Linked DNA regions of Homo sapiens: region 2 is linked to region 1. Evidence: fine-mapped expression QTL. A gene starts in region 1. The other region holds a variant in brackets. All regions are shown on one strand. Distances are between the middles of the regions. Region 1 holds the start of C12orf60 (chromosome 12 open reading frame 60). Region 2 overlaps ART4 (ADP-ribosyltransferase 4 (inactive) (Dombrock blood group)).

The links. PIP is the estimated chance that this variant, and not a neighbour inherited with it, causes the effect.
Region 2: its variant is the best candidate, but not a certain one, in a credible set for the expression of C12orf60 in sun-exposed skin (GTEx, PIP 0.53).

The regions. Positions count from the first base shown.
Region 1 is chr12:14,802,221-14,805,140 of GRCh38, forward strand. It overlaps C12orf60 (chromosome 12 open reading frame 60), which reads left to right and starts at 1,450. Exons shown (of 2, transcript NM_175874.4): 1 at 1,450-1,531. It overlaps WBP11 (WW domain binding protein 11), which reads right to left and starts at 1,258. Exons shown (of 12, transcript NM_016312.3): 1 at 1,132-1,258. It overlaps SMCO3 (single-pass membrane protein with coiled-coil domains 3), which reads right to left. Exons shown (of 2, transcript NM_001013698.2): 2 at 2,430-2,920. RefSeq lists an enhancer at 1,554-1,793.
Region 2 is chr12:14,824,096-14,827,015 of GRCh38, forward strand. ART4 (ADP-ribosyltransferase 4 (inactive) (Dombrock blood group)) reads right to left here. Exons shown (of 3, transcript NM_021071.4): 3 at 1,474-2,920. C12orf60 (chromosome 12 open reading frame 60) reads left to right here. Exons shown (of 2, transcript NM_175874.4): 2 at 1-320. Among named protein-coding and RNA genes, the nearest start is that of SMCO3, 11 kb to the left of the region's middle. The variant T/G (reference allele first, on the strand shown) is at 1,506.

The DNA.
Region 1 (2,920 bases):
TATTACATGACTTCTTCCTCTTATTCCAAAATAATGGGGCTTAATTTTTTGAAGCGCAGTCTTTCCAGTAATAAAGGCGGACAAATTTGCTTCCTTTTGCAAGTAGACACTTTTTAAAGGTAAGAAAGGGAAGATTTTGTCAGCCCAGTTTATTACAGTTAATGTCTCTTTCACCAAGTGTCCAACTGCCCCGAAAGCCAGATGTTTCAGAAAGCCAGATGTTTCACAGCTGTTCTGGTGGCAATTACTTCAAGACAGCGGTATCAAAGGCTCTGATTTTTAGCTTCCTCATCTAAAAAATGGGGACATCAATTACTTTATAACAAAGCTCTGATGATACAATGAGATTACAAATAAAATATCCTGTGATGTTTGACTCACTACTTAACTAAAATCTTTATAATGGATCCATATTCCTGGCCTAGCTACCATACACCCTGTCAAGTGGTTTCCTTCTAAGAAAAACTGGGGATGGGGGGGTTAGGGGGGTGGGAGAGCAGCAGGGAGTAGGAGGTAGGGAAGGAGGAAAACAAGCAAAATCAGTACATATACAAGCTCTCCCATCTTTGATTGCCTGCGTTTTTTGTGCTTTCCTTTCTCAAGTTTCCTCAGGCTCATGTTCTGAATCTCCTCCCCCACAAATGAAACACAACGGATACGAATTACAGAGAATTTTACGGAAGACACTGGAGCTTAAGTCTGCAGATTAGTTTTTTGTCTACAAGCGGAGGCGACTGGAAAATCAAGCCAAATAAGCGTTGGATAACTCTAAACAGCCAAAGAAGCTTCAATGGGATAGGGTCCAGGTTCACCAAAGGAGGCAACACCAGCAACTGACGAAACCATAGCGACGGCTGACCGACCATGACTCGAGGTACAAGACGTCAAACCTAAGGCTACTAATCAACGTGCGTAAGAAGCGGCCCCAACCGACCCGGGCGATGCCAACCGCGCAACCACTGGTCGCCGCGCCACCCCAGGCCCAGGAATAGCCCAGTCCGCAACAGGGAGACCTCAACCAGGGAGAGGAGGAGCGGGGCAAAGGGGCTGGGTGTCCCCCAAGCCGCTGCGCGGGACGTGGAAGGGACGAAAGAGGTGAGGAAGAGTAGTAAATCAATTCAATACACTCACACTTCTGCTGTGCTCCCAGGACTACGAGAAGCGGGTAGGGGGCGACTCCCGGCCTCTTTCACTTCGTAAAGGCCTTCAACTGGGTCTCTCGGTCAACCCCTCAGCTACCGCCATCTTGAAACCTCGCGCCCCTCCGCACTCCTCACGTCATTTCCCATTCCTCTGTCCCGCCTTCTCTTAGCGCCGCTTGACCCTGGAACCATAGAGAATACCCAAGAATTCCAGGACCAGAGTCTCTTCCGGTTCCATACAATACTCAATTGGTTGGTTGTCGGCTAAGAGCCCGCCTCATTGCGCTCATCTAGTACAATAGGAATTAGAAGAAGATAGCTGCTAACTGAGTGGCTGACGGTCCTGTCTCTCGAGTTGGAGGCATCTTGACTTAGTTGCTGGGAGCCTGGTACGTTGAGCCGTCCGAGAACGGTACATTCTGCAGATAAAGAAGCGTTCTGCGTTTTCTGTCTTTTGGAATTACCTTAGTTTTTGCATTTTTCTGTTTCTTATGACCCAAGCAGGTGCGATCCTTTAGGGGTGTCTCCGTGTGTAAACGAATACCCAGATAACATTTGCCACTGAGTTTAATCCGCTTTGTAAGCATCAGGTTATCCCATGTGAGCGCCTAGTACGTGTGGAAATTTAATAGACAGGCAGAACAGAACGTTTGTAGACCACCTGAACAAATAAATTAGCACCCGTATTAGAGTCGCAGATTGCTTATATGGGCGGTGATTTATTATTTGTTAGTAGTGTTTTGAAGAAGAAATACGGGGATACATATGCAGTCGGTTTTAAGTTATATGAGTGGCAAGGTTGATATATATTGGCTATATTCCCGACTGGTCTTTTCACCAGCCAAAAGTCCTCTATGATGTCACTCTACGTACGGGATTCTTCACTTAACTCTAGCCTTCGCCCTTTCCCTACCTTCTATCCCCTCTTTCCGTGAGTCAGCCCCCACTTATTTCCCTTAAAGGTAAGTTTAAACATTTAAAAAACTATCTTAGAGGATACGCTTGGTTATTTCTAATCTTAACCTGACTATCCCATGTAGGAAGGCTATTCTTACCACCAGTTATAAATATTTCAAAATATTGATGGAGATACATACTAATTTTTAGCAGAATCTTTAAACTGCCCTTGAAGGTATAAGATCGGTCCTATACCTAAACTTACCTTTGTGTTAGGAAATTCTTGATTTGATTTTAGACTGAATTTGAGTGTCAGAAAGCAATGACGAGATATTGTAGGTTAAAGCTGATAAACCAGGTAGTACATAAAAAAGAAAATAATCTTGAACTGCGAAGGTGAGCTAAGTTGTAATGTTTTGCAACTAGTTTTTTTTCTTTCCTAACACATTAGTGATCATAGTTTTGCAACTCGTTTTGAAAAACAATGCAAGAAGAGAAAGAGAAAACAGTGTATGTTGGAAATATTAAAGTCTTTCATGTAGCTAAAATTTTATATGTAGCTACTATTTTTAAGATATGCTGAGCAGTTTTTATTTCAATACATTTCTTGTACTTGGATGGGAGAATCAACTATAACAAACACAGTCTGGCATCAACAGCATATTAATAATTTTGTCAGTATAGACTAAAAGAGTCCTCATGGGAATTATTGGTTGGCAAAGGATTTAGAAAACAAACACATCTGCAGAGATTCAGCGGAACCATTAATAGGCTTCCATAGCCTTTGGCGTTTTCTAAAATCAGGTAATTAGTGAAATGGCCCACCTAATGCGTCATGTAGCAAAGGCAGCTGCCTCCTTTTTGCTAGTGTTGAAAATGAA
Region 2 (2,920 bases), 22 kb after region 1:
TCATATACCAATTTCTATATACTTCAGTACCTTGACGATCAGAAGCCATCACTAAATATTTTAAATATGATTCATAAGTAAGTGAGAACAGTGAATGAGCAATAATAGACTTTTCTTGCTTATGTGAGTAAGACCAGAACAGATAGTTCATTCTCACTTGTCTCCTGAGGTCTTATGATTAGAAAATACTAGAGGTGGAAAAATGGAAGTACTCTAGCCTTTCACAAAGAAAAGACTTTCACAAGGAAAACACTTGCAGAAGTAGGATATCTGAGATGTGCTTTATTTAAAGAAATGAGATAGGGCAGTCTCTTTGTCTACCATAAGTCTTTGGTTCTCATGCATTGTAAATGAGTATGTACTCCTAAGATTGGTGTTGAAGTTAACTATTTCACATGATACCTGATAGAACTCTGTTGAGAATAGGAAAAGCAATAATAACTCCAAGCCAAAGCCATCATTGTAATTCCCATTGTCATTTAAAATAAGGAGTCCCTTCTCCATCCTCATATAATTTCAAAATGTTTGGTAGGGAGGGTCAAGTGGATTTTGACCATTACCAGAGCTTGGAGGTTCTGGAAAAAACGATGAGTTTCAATACATTAACTCTCATTTTCTCTCCACAGCAAAGCTGAAACCTTGCTTATTTGTAATAGGTTTCTATTAAGAACTCTATTATTTTGAAGAGGATGTTAAATTGATTCATTTGCTACCATACACATACACACACACACACACACACACACACAGAGGGTGAGAGAGAGGAGAAGGGAGACAGGACTCTCACTTTGCTACTTTTTCTGGACCTATATGTGTCTAGGGTTTCAATCTCCTTTTAGTTTTAGGATTATGTTTCAGAATGTTGGATGCAACAGCTAGGGGGATTCATATGGAAATGAATGAGACAAGGACCAAGAAAAGTCTTGGTGCATAGTCTTTCTGTGAGGTGACTGGAAGAATAGCTGGTGGCAGTTCACAGGAAGTCCTTGCCAGATGCCAATGGGAATGACAACCAGGGTGTTAGAGATGGGAAGTGCCCACTTCAATAAAGATGAGTGGTCTTCCAGTGCTGGTGGCTGTTGTTAGGCTGGTGATCACTTACAGTGTTTCACATTTTCCCACCACTGGGTACCACCAGTCTGACCACTCTAATGACATCATGTCTGCTGCTGCCTCCTGGCTTCTGGAAATACTGAGGAAAAGCTGTATTTTTTTCTCAAACCTATTACTCACATTTAATGTTTCTCTCAAATACTTTGGTTTTGGGTTCCTCTCATTTTCTCTAATATCCTTCAGTTTTTGAAGAACAAAGTGGGGTGTGTTTCTATACTATGCCTGGTCTCATTCCTCCTCTAGGCTGTGAGCATGGGATGGCCTAGCTGTTTGAATGAATCATCAGTAGGGAGGAAAAAGTGAACTGCCACACAACACAACACATGATCATTTACTATTAAAAAAAATGAAATACTATTATACTTGTAATTTTTTTTATTAGTTGCCAGTGT[T/G]TGCTGCATCTTGGTATTTCTGAAAGCACCTAATAAATGCTTGTTGAATTTTACCAAATCAAGAGCTAGTTCATTCAGTGTAAATCAATTTGATTCATATTATTAGACAACTCAGTACAAGAATCCTGATTCTTCTAGCAAAACAAACTTTACTGAAATTTTCTTTCATTGGATTTTTTTTAAAGTAAGAGTAAATAGAGAACTTCAGGATAATCTAATAGGCGTATTAAAGAGAACACCTTGTTATAAAAATAAAGTATTACATGGGTTGAGTGTTTTTACTTTTTAAATTTTTCCTGTTTCAATCAGCTTCTTCAGATTAAACAGTATATTTCTGTACACATCAAAAGGAGACATACATGTATTTGTTTAATAAAATTACTATAGGACATAAGTACTCCTTACAGCACAGTCTCTGTTAACAGTTGCATGAATTTACACATATTTGAGCATCCGCCTTATCTTTGGAAGATATCCCAGGCTAACAAATTTATCCCAGCAGAAATTACAGTGAAATTTCTAAAACTAGTCTCTTAGAGTTTCATAAACATGTAACTTAATCAATTTAAATCAATACTCTACAGATTCCTTGCTCAACAACTTTGGACTATAGGGAGAGACTGAGGGGATGTGAGCTATGTACATTTATCCTTAACCAAACTCATGAATCTACATAATTTTAAGAGAATAGTTTCTGTCTCCAGAGATTTGATCTGTAAAACAGCAGCAGGAGTTAGAACTAAGTTATCTTTTTTAGAAACTTGGCTATTCCCTTAAGGATCATAATTGTGTAAGTCACAGTGTTCTCAAATGTTGGTGTATAGCAGAATCATCTAGAGGACTTATTAAAACAGACTGTTCAATTTCTGTAGTCTGTAGTCTGGGATCAGGCCCTAAAATTCACATTTCTAATGAGTTCTTAAAGGATGCTATTGCTGCTTGTGCCTAGAGAGTCAACGCTTTAGGAGAATTGTCTTACTCAGAAAATTATGACTTCTCATGGAAATCAAATGCTTTTGGCTGACTTTTTAGCTTCACTGAGTGGCTTCCAATTTCCTCTCCAGCCCACATTACCCCTCACTCTCTGCCAGACCTATCTGCTCCCTGACCTTATGCTGTACATACATCGATCATTCCGTATTCGCTTCTATTTTCTGCTTTCCTCTAAGTAAAACATCATCTCTGATAGAAAGCTTTATCTAACCATAGGCCAGAGGAATCACATTTTTCTCTCAGCTCCAAGCATTTAATATTTGGCCTTGTTTTGGGCACTACGCACTTGGCACATACTCTTTCTTGTTTTTTTCTCCTTCTGCTCACCCCTTCTCCCAGCCTAGAGCCCTAACGGCTGGTTCAAATGCAGCCTCTTACTTAAAGCCTTCCGGGTGTCTCTTCTTGCCTCAGTTGGAAGAAAT